Regions from separate parts of the Homo sapiens genome. Here all the other regions are linked to region 3. Evidence: fine-mapped expression QTL. A gene starts in region 3. Each other region holds a variant in brackets. All regions are shown on one strand. Distances are from middle to middle. Region 1 overlaps ABCA3 (ATP binding cassette subfamily A member 3). Region 2 overlaps ABCA3 (ATP binding cassette subfamily A member 3). Region 3 holds the start of ABCA3 (ATP binding cassette subfamily A member 3).

Region 1 (5,219 bases), 33 kb before region 3:
CACTGCAACCAGCCCTAATTTTTTTGTATTTTAGTAGAGATGGGGTTTCACCGTGTTGCCCAGCCTGGTCTCGAACTCCTGAGCTCGGGCAACCTACCCGCCTTGGCCTCCCAAAGTGCTAGGATTACAGGTGTGAGCCACTGCACCCGGCCAGTATAAGTCTTTATTTGTTTATTATTTTTTATTTTTTTGAGATAGAGTCTTGCTCTGTCACCCAGGCTGGAGTGCAGTGGTGCAATCTTGGCCCACTGCAACCTCTGCCTCTGGGGTTTGAATGATTCTTCTGCCTCAGCCTTCGGAGTAGCTGGGATTACGGGAGCACGTCACCACACCTGGCTAATTTTTGTATTTTTTTTAGACAGAGTCTCACTCTGTTGCCAGGCTGGAGTGCAGGGGCACAATCTTGGCTCGCTGCAGCCTCCACCTCCCAGGTTCAAGCGGTTCTCCTGCCTCAGCCTCCCGAGTAGCTGGGACTACAGGTGTGCGCCACCATGCCCAGCTGATTTTTGTATTTTTAGTAGAGACGGAGTTTCACCATGTTGGCCAGGATGGTCTCGATCTCTTGACCCCATGACCCGCCCACCTCAGCCTCCCAAAGTGCTGAGATTACAGGCGTGAGCCACCGCGCCCCGCCAATTTTTGTATTTTTAGTAGAGACAGGGTTTCGCCATGTTGGCCAGGTGGGTCTTGAACTCCTGACCTCGAGTAATCCACCCGTCCTCCCAAAGTGCTGGGATTACAGGTGTGAGCCACCCCATCCAGCCTAGTATAACTATTTTTTTACATTTTAATTTTGTAGTGATGGGGGTCTTGCTATGTTGCCCAGGCTGGTCTCAAACTCCAGCCTCAAGCCTTCCTCCTGCCTCGGCCATAAGTCTTTTTTAATCACAGAAATATTTCAAACACGTGTAAAGCTCTCTTTAATGGAGCTCGTGTTTCTCATCATCTCTCTGGTTTGCCAACATTGCAGTCCTGACAGTGCTGGGGATCTGTGTGTCCAAACACCCTCTGTTTGGCCGAGGACCCTGATGGAAATAATGCTCTCCAGCCTTGGTGAATTTGCACTTTCAAACAACCAGAGATTTGTCTGTTTTAATAACATTCACTCTAGCTGGGCGTGGTGGCTCACATCTGTAATCCCAGCACTTTGGGAGGCTGACACAGGAGGATTGCTTGAGGCCAGGAGTTTGAGACCAGCCTAGGCAACACAGACAAATTAGCCAGGTGTGGTGGCACGTGCCTGTAGTCCAGCTACTCAGGAGGCTGAGGTGGGAGGATCACTTGAGCCTGGGAGGTCGAGGCTACAGTGAGCTATTATCATGCTACTGCACTCCAGCCTGGGCAATGGAGTAAGACCCTATCTCCAAAAAAAAATTGTTAAAAAGAAAGCAAAAGAACAAAGTTTACATTTTATCAACACACGAGTAAACATGGAAACACAGATATGTAAAAGCTAAAGTGTCAGAAGACACTGCCGACTGTAGAGAACCGTTCTAATGAAAGACAAAGCAACGCTGGACACTCCCACCTCCTTCCACAGACCCAGACCTTGGCAAGCTGCAGCTAGGAACTGCATGGTGCCATGGCTTGACTGGGCCCCCCAAATTCATGTGTTGGAGACTTGACCCCCAATGCAGCAATGTTGGGAGGAGGCCTAACTGGAGGGGCTCAGACCAGGTTTGGTGCCCACAGCAGGCTTTGCAGAATGAGAGCCCACAGGCCAAAGGCCGACCAAGGAAGTGTTTTACTCAATTTAATTTCATAAAAATTAAGAAAAAAAGTGGGCGGCTCACGCCTGTAATCCCAGCACTTTGGGAGGCCGAGGCGGGCGGATCACAAGGTCAGAAGATCGAGACCATCCTGGCTAACACAGTGAAACCCCGTCTCTACTAAAAATACAAAAAATTAGCTGGGCACGGTGGCGGGCGCCTGTAGTCCCAGCTACTTGGGAGGCTGAGGCAGGAAAATGGCATGAACCCGGGAGGCGGAGCTTGCAGTGAGCCGAGATTGCGCCACTGCCCTCCAGCCTGGGTGAAAGAGTGAGAGACTCCGTCTCAAAAAAAAAAAAAAAAAAAAAAAGAAAAGAAAAGAAAAAAAGTGAGTCGTGATGATGCCATTGCACTCCAGGCTGGGTGACACAGCGAGACCCTGTCTCAAAAAACAAAAAAGAAAAGAAAAAAAATGCTGTCGTTTATCACTTGTTTCTCTCTTAGGCGTCTCTGCTGCCATCACCAATCAATACAGGAGGCACTGGGAAGATGCTAATTCTACCCTTTACCAAGAGCAGTGGTTGATGAAAAGTCCTCGAAACCCAGCCAGCCTCAGTGGCTCACTCCTGTAATCCTAGCACTTTCGGAGGCCGAGGGCAGATCACTTTAGGTCAGGAGTTCAAGACCAGCCTGGCCAACATGGCAAAACCCCCTCTCTACTAAAAATACAAAAAAATTAGATGGGCATGGTGGTGCATGCCTGTGATCCCAGGTACTCGGGAGGCTGAGGTGGGAGGATCACTTGAACCCAGAGGCAGAGGTTGAGATGAGCCAAGATCGCACCACTGCACTCAAACCTGGGAAACAGAACGAGACTCTTGTCTCAAAAAAAAAGAAAAAAAGTCCTCAAAACCCTAGACTTTGAGATCTCTGATGTAATAATTTTATTTTATTTTTTTGAGACGGAGTCTTGTCACCCAGGCTGGAGTGCAGTGGTGCGATCTCAGCTCACTGCAAGCTCCGCCTCCTGGGTTCACGCCATTCTCCTGCCTCAGCCTCTCGAGTAGCTGGGACTACAGGCGCCTGCCACCACGCCCGGCTAATTTTTTGTGTTTTTAGTAGAGACAGGGTTTCACCTTGTTAGCCAGGATGGTCTCGATCTCCTGACCTCGTGATCCACCGGCCTCAGCCTCCCAAAGTGCTGGGATTATAGGCGTGAGCCACCACGCCCAGCCTTTCTGATGTAATAATTTTGAATGTCTCAGGAAGCTGGAAGAGGCCAGATGTGGTGGCTCACGCCTGTAATCCTGGCTATTCAGGAGGCTGAGGCAGGAGGATTGCTTGAGGTCGAAAGTTTGAGACCAGGCTGGGCAACACAGTGAGACCCCATCTCTATAAAATATTTAAAATAAAAAAAAATGAAAACTGAAAGAGGCTCAGGTCACCGACTTAGATCCCACCATCAGTCAGATGCGTATGTGGTGCCAACGCTGCTGGATGCTCCAACCCTCTTGTCCTCCGAGCTT[TG/T]GGCTTCTTCGGCCCACTGCCCTGTGGCTCCCATCACCTCCTGCTGTGCCGTGGAGCTGGGCTTCCCTCGCCCGGGGCCGTGTCCAGCTATCCAGCCCACACTCAGCGCTGTATGCGGATGCTGCTGCCTTCAGTGGTCCCAACTGCCTGCCAACCGTCCCAGGTGGAGCCTTGCTGCTGGCGGCTCTTGTGGTTGGGTGCTCTCGAAGGTTACTGATTCGGAAAGAACAGGCTGGACAAGGCAAACACTCACCTTTCGCCTCAAATTTCCCAATGAGCTGGGCTCCCATTGCCATGGCGACATTAGACAGGAGGCAGGAGCAGAGCTTCTGGCTCAGAGTCATCCAGTTGTACCGAGGGGCCACGAAGAAGTAGGGGATGTAGGTGAAGAAGTAGAGGAAGCCTCCGAAGGCTGCTGCCATGTTGGCTGCAGGTGTTGGAAGACCCGGGGGGCGTGAGCGTCAGTGCCCTCAAAAGGGGCTTGGGCTCCCCGAGGTACAGGCAACCCCCTACTCCTGGGGCCGAGCCACCCAACCTGCTCCTGGCACTTGCCATCTACACGGGACACAAGCTCCAGCACGGGGGGACACCAGGTGTGGCCGGCAGCCCCTTCTCCAAGTGAGTAGTGCCCCCATCCCAGGGACCCCCACACCAACACCTCCAGCCCCTCCTCCACCTCCCATCCAGCTGCCTCCCTGACACTGCACACCTCACGTGGCTGATCCCAAACCCCTGATTCCCGCCTAAGCCCCACTTCTTTTTTTTTTGAGAAGGAGTCTTGCTCTGTCGCCCAGGCTGGAGTGCAGTGGCACGATCTCGGCTCACTGCAAGCTCCGCCTCCTGGGTTCACGCCATTCTCCTACCTCAGCCTCCTGAGTAGCTGGGACTACAGGTGCCCGCCACCACGCCCGGCTAATTTTTTGTATTTTTTAGTAGAGATAGGGTTTCACCGTGTTAGCCAGGATGGTCTCGATCTCCTGACCTCGTGATCCACCGGCCTTGGCCTTCCAAAGTGCTGGGATTACAGGCGTGAGCCACCGTGCCCAGCCTGCCTAAGCCCCACTTCTGCCTGGGTTGCCTGATCTCTCTCATTTGTTCATTCATGCATTCGTCAGATACGCACTGAGCACCTACTCTGTTCTAAGCACCGGGAGGCAGCCCCACACAAAACAGAGAAAATCCCTCCCCTCCCACGCCTGGAATATAGCGGGGAGACAGAGAGCAAGGTGTGCTGGATGGAGACACATGCTGGATGCAGCAAGGAGGCGCAGGATGGGAGAAGAGGCTCCCGACGGCCGGGAAGGCTTCGAGGAGGTGACATGTGAGAAGGAGCCGGAAGAGGTGAGAGAGTGGATTACGGAGAGTGGAGAGATGGGCATGTTTTCTGTCCATGCCAGCAGTGCTCAAACTGTTTGGTTTTCTTTTCTTTGTTTCCTTTTGAGATCGAGTCCCCCTCTGTCACCTAGGCTGGAGTACAGTGGTGCCATCATGGCTCACTGCAGCCTCCACCTCCCGGGCCCAAGAAGTCCTCCCACCTCCGGCTAGGGAGAGCAGCTAGGACCACAGGCACGCAGTACCATGCCTAGCTAATTTTTAAATGTTTTTGTAGAGATGGGTTTCCCTATTTTGTCAGGGCTAGTCTAAAGCTCCTAGGCTCAAGGGATCCTCCCGCCCTGGCCTCCCAAAGTGTTGGGATTACAGGTCTGAGCCACCGTGCCCAGCCATCAAAATCTTTGGTCTTAAGACCCTTTTCTATCCTTAAAAATTATTAACGACACCAAAGGGCTTTTTAAATGTGGGTTATATATATATATCCATATTTATTCTGTGAGAAATTAATACTAAGAACATTTAAAAATTCTGTTAAATTTAAGAATAACAGTAACAAATCCACTACAAGTCAACATACATTTATGAAAAAAACCCCGGCTGGGTGTGGTGGCTCATGCCTGTAATCCCAGCACTTTGGGAGGCTGAGGTGGG
Region 2 (5,217 bases), 39 kb before region 3:
CAGTGGAAACACCCCTGCACACCCCTGGCCCCCAACTCACCTGGGCGTAGAAATAAAGGTGCTCTGCGACTGTCAAGTTGTCAAACAGGATGTCGTGCTGCGGGCACAGGCCCAGGCTCTTCCGGATCTGAACCATGTCCTGGGAAATTTCATACCCGCTGATGTATGCCCGTCCACTGGTGGGGGGAAAGAGACCTGGGGCCCAGCAGGAGACCCCACATTCAGCATGAAGATCCTGCTCGTCAGCACCCGCGGTAATGACCCCCCACCCCCTCTCTGTCTCCCCTAATTTCCTCTGAGGACCCTGCCCATGAGAGGGCACGGAACCCCACTCCCACTGGGGTGGGCTTTGGCTGGGCCAGTGGGAAAAAGAAGCGGCATGGAAACAGCCCTGCCACTGGGACGCACAGCTGGTCAGGGAGGAGAAACCCACGACACACACACACAGAGTCACCACAATCAGCCCCCGCCCCGGGTCCCAGCCTGTGCCACTGCCAGACACTTTGGTGCTTGGGGAAGACAGAGTGAAATGCCAGTGGCCGGTGTGGTGCACAGGGGAGAGCTCTCAGAGAGGGGTTTGGTGACAGAATTAGCATGGGGTTGAGCTGCTCCTGCGTGGTGGCCTCTGTTTTCACTGACCCTGTCAAGCTTGGGTATTCACAGACAGAGGCGGTGAGGAGGGCAGGGGTCCCTGGGGGTCCCCCTGCATTCATGGACAGAGGCGGTGAGGAGGGCAGGGGTCCCTGGGGGTCCCCCTGCATTCACGGACAGAGGCGGTGAGGAGGGCAGGGGTCCCTGGGGGTCCCCCTGCATTCACGGACAGAGGCGGTGAGGAGGGCAGGGGTCCCTGGGGGTCCCCCGGCATGTCCCGGACAGAGGCGGTGAGGAGGGCAGTCCCTGCTTGTGCCCCTGGGCCTGCAGGGCTGAGGTGCATCTCCTGCCGCTGTGGTTGGGGAAGGCCCGAAAGCCCCATTGAGGGAGTGAGGCGGGGCTGGCGCTGAGATGGTGTTAAAGGGGGGCCTGCTGGTGGCAGGGGCGTGAGGCGCCTGGCCCTCACCTGTGAGCATGGAGAGGGTGGTGGTCTTCCCGGCACCGTTGTGGCCCAGCAGGACGGTGATCTGTCCCTCGTACAGGTTGAGGTTCAGGTCTCTGACGGCCGCCCTGTCCTTATTTCCCACCCTGAACACCTGCAGGAAAGGCAGAGGCTGCCCTGGGCTACCCACAGCCCCGAGGCCCACGGCCAAGGCCTCTCCTGCTCCCCTGCCCGACCGTCTCAGAAGGAACCAAGCCTAGCGTCACCATCAGTGTGCAGAGGGGAGGGACGTTTCGGGCAGATGCTGCTCCTGGCTGCTCCCCTCCGGTCTCCCCCAGCCCCAACACGTCCCAGACACCCTCAGTGTCTCTGCAACCCTGGGAGGCCCATGAGGCCGAGGCACTGCTGGACGGCTGAGTCTGGCATTTCCTGAGAAGCTGGAGATGTGGTCTGTGCCCTGGGGAACCGGTTAGAGGGCAGCGGAGGGTTCCTGCCCTCCTTCAGGGCAGGAGGGAGCAAGGCTCAGAGGGAGCGCCTGACGGGCTATGAGGTCTCACTGCCGTGCTGGTAAGTCTTCCCATGGTCCTGGCAGCCCCGGCCCTCCCTGTCCCCACAGGAGGCGGCACCTTGGACAGGTGCTTGATCTTGATCCCCGCCACCAGGTCCTCTGGCTCGGCTTCAAAGTACTCGTTTCTGAGTGCTTTCTCGGGGTCACTGTCTTCTTCCTCCTTCCCTGCAACCGCCCTTGGCTTCCCACACCAATAGGAGGGCTGGGAGGGAAGCAGACAGCTGTCAGTTTGTTTTGTTTGTGACGAGCAAAGCAACAACCAGCAGACACACTAGATGCACACAGCCATGCAGCCTCTGTCCCAGGACTTCGAGGCACTGCTGTGGAGAAGGCGCTACTCAGGGAGAGCCCCAGAGAGTCCCAACTTGTTTCATCCCTGTGAAGGCTCTAAGCCTCAGTTTCCTAACCTGGTAAGTGGGTGTAATGGTTACATACAGGCTTGTGAAGATGAACTCAGATCCGATACAGGGCAAAGGGAGTTTGTCAGCTATGAAATTTCATAGACAGAAGTTATCTAACGCTCCAGTCCAGAGGGATGTTGGAGCCAAAATGGAAAGAAAGCTGTGTCCCCATGCCAC[C/T]CGGCTGTTTCTTTGCTCAAGCCCCACATGAGTTCATGACTGTAAGCAAGAGAAGCCGAAGGCGCCACGCCTCCCTCTACTATGAGGAAGCCTCTTCCCATCTTCTCTGTGGCCATCACAGAAATAACTCAGTGCATGGGGTAAGAACACAGGCACACACCTCACACAGTGCCCTCGAGGACAGCCTGGTGCCTACATGGAGGCAGTCGACACAGTGGTGCGGGCAGAGCAGCAGGGAAGGTGGAAGCAGTGCCTTGGCAGGATCAGTGCCAGGGCAGCTGCGGGGCGGGGACTCGTTTACCCGCAGCTCCACGCCCAGTGCACTTCCAGCACCTGGAACGGCATCTGGCACACACTGCACTCCACTGGTTCTCAGGGACACAGCTCTCATATGTAAAGTGATTTTAAAATCAGAATGCATCTTGGCTGGGCACGGTGGCTCGAGCCTGTAATCCCAGCACTTTGGGAGGCCGAGGCGGGCGGATCATGAGGTCAGGAGATCGAGACCATCCTGGCTAACACGGTGAAACCCCGTCTCTACTAAAAATACAAAAAAATTAGCCGGGCGTGGTGGTGGGCGCCTATAGTCCCAGCTACTCGGGAGGCTGAGGCAGGAGAATGGCGTGAACCCGGGAGGCGGAGCTTGCAGTGAGCCGAGATGGCACCACTGTACTCCAGCCTGGGCGACAGAGCGAGACTCCGTCTCAAAAAAAAAAAAAAAATCAGAATGCATCTTAAACTATAAAATGCCATAGTGTAAGTGTGGCATTTTTCTTTCTTAGTGATAGACAAAGTAACCATTACCTCTAACGGTCAGTGTCATCTTACAGTTGATGGATTACAGTAGTGAACACTTGATAACTACTTGTGGAAGCAAAGAATGAAAACAGAAATGGCCTCGGCTGGAGGTGGTGGCTCACGCCTGTCATCCCAGCACTTTGGGAGGCCGAGGCGGGTGGATCACCTGAGGTCAGGAGTTCAAGACCAGCCTGGCCAACATGGCGAAACCCCGTCTCTAATAAAAATACAAAAAAAATTAGGTGCGTGTAGTGGTGGGTGCCTGTAATCCCAGCTACTCAGGAGGCTGAGGCAGGAGAATCACTTGAACCTGGGAGGTGAAGGGTGCAGTGAGCTGAGATCGCGCCACTGGACTCCAGCCTGGGCAACAGAGCTAGACTCCGAATCAAAGAAAAAAAAAAAAAAAGAAATGACCTTAACTAGCCATCGGTAGGGAATCAGTTAAGTATATGTTGATGGGCCCACAGAATGGAACACTGTGTGTCACTATAAATGAAGGTGGTTTGTTGGGAGCAAGCCCCCCAAAGTCTGGCCATAAACTGGCCCCAAAACTGGCCATAAATAAAATCTCTGCAGCAATGTAACACGTCCATAATGGCCATAACACCCAAGCTGGAAGGTTGTGGGCAAGGAACACCTGGCCCGCCCAGGGCGGAAAACCGCTTAAAGGCATTCTTAAGCCGCAAACAAAAGCCTGAGAGATCTGTGTCTTAAGGGCGTGTTCCTGCTGCAAGTAATTCGGCCCATCCATCCATTTCCCTTAAGGGATACTTTTAGTTAATGGAATATCTATAGAAACAATGCTAATGACTGGTTTGCTGTTAATAAATATGTGGGTAAATCTCTGTTCGGGGCTCTCAGCTCTGAAGGCTGTGAGACCCCTGATTTCCCACTTCGCACCTCTATATTTCTGCGTGTGTGTCTTTAATTCCTCTAGTGCCGCTGGGTTAAGGTCTCCCCGACCGAGCTGGTCTCGGCAGTGATTCTTAAAAAGGTAATACTTAGGTAGAAATATATTTATAAATATAACAACATTCATCAATATGTTTAGATAATAGTTTAAAACTATATTTATAAATAGACAAACATATATATGTATTTAAGATATCTGAGTTGTACTGTTAGGTTAAGAAAAGCAACTTGTAAGCATTTTTTACAATATGATTCTTTTTTTTTTTTTTGAGACAGGGTCTCATTTTTTCACCAAAGTTGGAGTGTGGTGGTGTGAACATGGCTCACTGCAGCCTCCTGGGCTCAAGTGATTCTTCTGCCTCAGCCTCTCAAGTAGCTGGGACCACAGGCATGTGCCGCCTGGCTAATTTTTTAAATTTTTTATTTATTTTGTAGAGATGGGGTTGCACTATGTTGCCCAGGCTGGTCTCTAACTCCTGGCCTCAAGTCATCCTTCCACCTCAGCCTCCCAAAGTGCTGGGATTACAGGGATGAGCGACTATGTCCACCCCGATCCCATTTTTTTTTTTTTTGAGATGGAGTCTCGCTCTGTCGCCCAGGTTGGAGTGCAATGGCACAGTCTCAGCTCACTGCAACCTCCGCCTTCCGGGTTCAAGCAGTTCTCCCTGCCTCAGCCTCCCAAGTAGCTGGGATTAGAGGCGCCTGCCACCACACCCAGCTAATTTTTTTTTTTTGTATTTCTTTAGTAGAAACAGGGTTTCACCATGCTGGCCAGGCTGGTCTCAAACTTCTGACCTCAGGTGATCCACCCATCTTGGCCTCCCAAAGTGCTGGGATTACAGGGGTGAGCCACCACACCCGGCCTCCAATCACATTTTTATGAAACTATGCTATATGTCCATCCATCTGTGCTCTATGACAGTAAGTGTAGAGAGGGAAACCCAGCAAAGTACATACCAAATGTCAACAGTGTTCATCTCACCAGTGGGAATGAGCTATAGATTTCAGGAATCCGAACTTTTTTTCTCTCTTTTTTTTTTTTTTTTGAGACAGACTCTCGCTGTGTTGCCAGGCTGGAGTGCAATGGCGCGATCTTGGCTCACTGCAAGCTCCGCCTCCCAGGTTCATGCCATTCTCCTGCCTCAGCCTCCCGAGTAGCTGGGACTACAGGCACCCGCCATCACACCCGGCTAGTTTTTTTTTTATTTTTTATTTTTAGTGGAGATGGGATTTCACCTTGTTAGCCAGGATGGTCTTGATCTCCTGACCTCGTGATCCACCCACCTTGGCCTCCCAAAGAGCTGGGATTACAGGCGTGAGCCACCACG
Region 3 (5,219 bases):
GCCTCAAGTGATCCTCCCGCCTTGGCCTCCCAAAGTGCCAAGATTACAGATGTGAATCACTTGCACTGGCCAAGGCCAATTTATAACCTCAGTGGCCCTTGTGGGGATGAGGTAGGAACAAATGCACAACCCACAGCCATTGGCTGAGAGCTGGGGAGGCTGGTTTGAGGCTGTGGCACTGGCATCGCAGGCCCTGATGGAGCCCTAGCTTGCTGGCGCTCATACTCAGCACCACAGGCGCTGCCTGGAGTTGGAGGCGGCTGCCTCCCTAGGATCACAGGCTCTGCGTTTACAATGAAGCTCTGGCAGGGGTTCATAGGGTGTATTTTTAAGCCAGAGACGTGGTTCCAAAGGGAGCTATCGGGACAGACTTCCACAAAATCTCTGCTACTGCCTGTTTCCCTAACCCTTGCCGTGGCTTCAGTCCCGTTCTCCAGCCAGCTAGCTGTTCTGCCTCCCTAGGTGCAGGAAACGAGGTAATGAGGCAATGGAAAGTCCCCAGAGGGAGGTAACCATGGATGTTCTCCAACAAGCAAGTTAGCAAGGACCTCGTTACACGGCTCCCGCAAAGGCACCTGTCTGCCTGTTGACTCCAAACCTCTCCAACACCACAAACACTCTGAGCCATTCAGGGGAATGGGGTCTGCAAAACTCTCCCAGGACAGGGCCTGACATGCCTCACTCTTCCCCACAAGATGTGGGCCTTCAGTGTTTTGTCTGCCTAGAATATCACCCGGATACCTTTCTCTACCTACCCATCACTTCCCAGCCCACTTCTAGTACCATGGCCTCTGTGAAGCTTGTTTCAGGGGCTCTTTGTCTTGGCTGCCTGCACAATGGAATTTTCCAGGGCACTTTAAGACAGAAACTGACATCTGAGGCCCACCCCTGGAGATTCTGGGCTGTTTTGGGCCCAGGCTGGCTTCCCAGGTGATTGTAACGGGAAGCCTGGGTGGAGACCCTCTGCTCTTCTTGGAGCCAACTCTCCTCCACCTCTGGTCACCTGTTGCACCTTTTCTGGATGTGTCATGTGGTACTCATCTTGTTCTGTCTTATGTCACAGTTACTTGTGAATAAAGCATCTCTTTAGCTCTATCCTAAGACCCCTCCAAGAGCAGGGACTGTGTCCAATTCATCTTTTTTTTTTTTTTTTTTTTTGAGACAGAGTCTTGCTCTGTCGCCCAGGCTGGAGGGCAGTGGTGCCATCTCAGCTCACTGTAACCTCCACCTAATATGTTCAAGCGATTCTTCTGCCTCAGCCTCCTGAGTAGCTGGGATTACAGGCACGTGCCACCATGCCCGGCTAATTTTTTATATTTTTGGTAAAGATGAGGTTTCGCCATGTTGGCCAGGCTGGTCTCGAACTCCTGAACTCAAGTGATCCGCCCGCCTCTGCCTCCCAAAGTGCTGGGATTACAGGTGTGAGCCACTTAGCCCGGCTTCCAATTCATCTTTCCATTGTGCACAAGGCCTTCCCCGTCAGAGCCGTCCCCAAAGTTCCAGAATGCTTCCCCTCAATAGATTCCACAGTCTCCGGAAGCAGGGCTGGGGAAGAAATGGCAAACTAGGGATCTTACCTGGGCCTTCCCAGTTGAGACTACGTCAAAATGGGCTCCCATGAGACTGCCTGGCTCATGCAGATGGAAGGCTAACATCTTTTTAGAAACAACTCGTGCTACCCTCTCCTGTTCCAAAAGCCTGTCTGGTCAGAATGGTGGTAAGTCACTTTAGGAAGGGAGAGACGTCGTCCTGTTTTTCAGGTAGAGTTAGCAAAGGTTCAATTTAAAAGAAAAATTATCTAAGAAGTTAAAAATGAAAGTGTGGGGGAGATTCCCATGACATCCATTTTTATCTATTTTTCCCTTTCTCTTACATTTCTCATGAGGCAAACTTTCTAAAACAGTCTTAGTCTTTTCAAGTTTACAAAAGGCAGCGCCCAGACTATCTGAATAAAATGACGGGATGCCCAGGAGAAGAGTGAACCTCTCCCACGTGCTCCCTGCCTGGGCTCCATGCTGTCGCGGGGTCTCGGCTACTCACTCAGCGGGCATTTCTGGAGTTCCAGGAACACAAACCCCAACAAGATCCAATCGACGCCTTCCCGGAGTGCACAGTCCAGGACGTAACCCGGAGAACAAGCGGCAATTACCCCCTGAGGACATGGCTTCATCTGTGCGACAGACACCAAGCGCCTTCCCCACGCCCCTGACCATAAGGCCGTCCCGGCCCTTCTGAAGCGTGGAGCCGGCTTGGAACAGAGCCAAGACACACGGACGCGATGCACACAGGCGTCCTGACCGAGGGCGCCGAGAACGCGGCCTCCGGCGACTGCCACAAGCCCCTCCGCCTGGACTAGCGGCTCCCCTTTCCCGTTCCCACACAGTGGAGGGCGCAGCAAACGCCCGCCGCGGACCGTGGGCCTTGGATTCGGATTTGGAGGCTCCTCGGAACCAGAGGGTGGGAGCAGGCGGAATCCAACCCGGGCGGCTTTGCCACCGCGCGCCCGGCATCCCTGCGGCCGGAAAGCGGCGCCATCTCCGCAAGTGCGCGGCGGACGCCTGCATCCCTCGGGGCCGGGGCTGTCGGTCGCTACATATCCACCTTCTGGGCGCACACAGAGGGCCCGGGCCGTGCCGAGTCTCCGCAGGGTCGAGCTTCCCCGCGCGGCGCGGGCTCAGGCACTGCCCGCAGTGCGGGACACGCCCAAGGCTCGGATGGGAGCCGACGCTGAGGGAGCGGCACCTGCAGGGAGCGCCCGGAGCCGAGGCCGCGGCAGGAGGGGCGGGCGCGGGCGCGGCCGGAGGGGATGCGGGGTCGCGGGAGGGGCCCGCAGGCCAGGCCGGAGCTGGGGGGGGCCCGAGGCCCGAGCTGGCCGGCGAGGGTGGGAAGGGCGGACCCGGGTGGGGACCGCAAGCCCCGGGAACGAGCGCGCGAGCGGCGGGTCCCGGCGGCACTCACCGAGCCTGGGCGCCGGGGCGGCGGCGGCCGGCGCGCGGCCCTCTCGCGGGGTCCCCTCCCTCGGCCACCCGGGCTCCGCTCCAGCCTCGCAGTGGCGGCGGCACTGACAGCTGCGTGGCCGCCCTGGAGGGGAGGGTGCGCCTGCAACCCGCTACTGGCGGACGCAGCGGCCGCTCCGGCTCCTGCAGGGGGCGCCGCGGATGGCGCGTGCGCAGTCGGCCGCCCCTGCAGGTGCCCGGTCCACCCCCGGCCGCCTCGGCCGCTCCGGCCAGCCCAACCCCGCGCCTGCGCGGTGCCCCCTGCATGTCGCCCATGCCCGGCAGAGGGCGCTCTGACTTGCGCGTGCGCAGTCAGCCACCCTGCGAGTACGCGGTTCGCACCCGGCCGCGCGGCAGCCCGTGCTTGCGCACTGCTCTGTGCCCGCGCCTATGTCCAGCAGGGGGCGCGCAGCGGCGGTAGCCGAGCGAGGGCGCGGTGGCCTCTGACAGGAATGACTCTGCGCACGTGCGTTTCGCAGCAGTGGAAGTCTTCACACCCGGAAACTCGACTTTGGCCGTTTCTCCATTTCTCCTCACGCACTGTCTTTCCTTGGGCCCTCGTCACTCCTGGCACCGGGGGAAGGGCTTCCCCGCCTCTGGCCGGGCGCTGGGGCGCGACCGAAGGCGAGGCGGCGGCGAGGAACCTTCTGGAATTCGGCCGTCGGGGCAGGCGTCGAGTTTACAGGAGAAGGCGCGGTGTCCCGGGATGAGCGGAGTCGCCCTCACTTAAGGAGCGAGGGAGGCCTCGGGGGTCCCCAGCCGGGTAGGAGTCACCTCAGGCAGGAGGGCCCGGCCTTGTCGGGGTCACCTGGCGGGAGGGTCCCGGGGTGGGGCGGGGCCGCCTGTGAGGAGGGTCCAGAGAGGGTCGGGGTCACCTGAGGGGAGGGTGGGGGGGTTCGGGGATGGTTGGGGTCACCCGACGGGATGGTCCGGGGAGGGTCGGGTTCACCTGAGGGGAGGGTCGGGGAGGGTCCGGAGAGGGTCGGGGTCACCTGAGGAGGTGGTCCGGAGAGGGTCGGGGTCACCTCACGGAGCGAGCGGAACGGGGTCACCTGGAGGGAGTGTCCAGGGCGGGGGCCCTGCAGGGAGTCGCCTGCAGGGAGGGTCCCGGGCGTGTCACATTAGGCGGTCCCAGGGACGGGTCGCGGTCTAACGGGACGGGAGTGGGGAGGTGGGTCGGGGTGTCCCTGGGCCGGACCGGGTCGTGGGACTGGGTCGCCCCAGGCAGGAGAGCCTGGGAGGGGCGGGCCCCCTTGGCGTGGCAGGGAGAGGTGGAGTGAGGGACTCCCGGGCTCCAGCATGAGGGCGGGCGCCGCGCGGGGCCGACAGTTGCCGCGGGCCGGGGCCAATGGGTCCCCGAGCGCCGCCAGCGGCCGGACCACAGTGAGGTGCGTCCGTGGTCCCGGCGCCCCGGGTGAGGGAGGGCTGCTGCCGGTCCTGCCGCTGGGAGCCGCCTGCGACCCGCACCGCCAGCCCCGCGCCCAGCCAGCCGCCGGCACCACGACCCGACGGCCCCGACCTAATGCAACGCCCCGGGCCGGGGGCGGAAATCGCCCACCCCCAAGAGTCCTGATGGAGTAGGGTTTGAGCGGCTCGTTCCCCATTTTACTGTGTACATAGCACCTTTCACTCTGATGATGTTCTGGATAGCCCATTCCGCGAGCAAAGGGACTTCGTCAGGTTCATGCCTAGATCCAGGGTCCTAGAGTGCCTGGGGCGGAGGAGGCTCATGCTAAATAATTTGTTCAGTGGAATCACAGAGACCTGGCTTCAGATCTTGACCCACCAATTAATGTAGACATGTCATTTTATCTTTCTGAGTCTCAATTTCCTATCCCTAAAATTGAAATTATAATAATAGTAATTAATAATAATAGCAAACTCAAAGGTTTTTTGTTGGTGTATTCTTTTCTTTTTTGGGTCAAATGAGAAAATGCATGTTTAAGTGCTTACTACAATACCTGACACATAAATGCCAAATAAATGGTAGTATATAATGTGAGTATAGCTAGGGATTTACATAGCCTAGTCTCCGTAATGAGCATACAGGGGGAAAAAAAACCCCAAACAATTGAATGCAGTTACAGGATGGGTGGGGGAGTGGATTATTAATGCGCTGCAAACATCCTAAAAACCCCCTTTCCCCATCAGTCTTCACAGACTGCAACACCCCATCCAAAATGTCTTCCCCATTCTCTGCTTCGTCCCAGAAAATGATGTGAA

Evidence for each region. PIP is the estimated chance that this variant, and not a neighbour inherited with it, causes the effect.
Region 1: its variant is the best candidate, but not a certain one, in a credible set for the expression of ABCA3 in cerebellum (GTEx, PIP 0.74).
Region 2: its variant is the best candidate, but not a certain one, in a credible set for the expression of ABCA3 in thyroid (GTEx, PIP 0.61).

What each region holds. Positions count from the first base shown.
Region 1 is chr16:2,304,961-2,310,179 of GRCh38, forward strand. ABCA3 (ATP binding cassette subfamily A member 3) reads right to left here. Exons shown (of 33, transcript NM_001089.3): 11 at 3,490-3,663. Among named protein-coding and RNA genes, the nearest start is that of MIR4717, 33 kb to the left of the region's middle. The variant TG/T (reference allele first, on the strand shown) is at 3,236.
Region 2 is chr16:2,298,346-2,303,562 of GRCh38, forward strand. It overlaps ABCA3 (ATP binding cassette subfamily A member 3), which reads right to left. Exons shown (of 33, transcript NM_001089.3): 13 at 1,660-1,803; 14 at 1,058-1,187; 15 at 41-195. Among named protein-coding and RNA genes, the nearest start is that of MIR4717, 26 kb to the left of the region's middle. The variant C/T (reference allele first, on the strand shown) is at 2,180.
Region 3 is chr16:2,337,615-2,342,833 of GRCh38, forward strand. ABCA3 (ATP binding cassette subfamily A member 3) reads right to left here and starts at 3,114. Exons shown (of 33, transcript NM_001089.3): 1 at 2,959-3,114. It also overlaps the pseudogene ABCA17P. RefSeq lists silencers at 2,735-2,794, 2,965-3,424.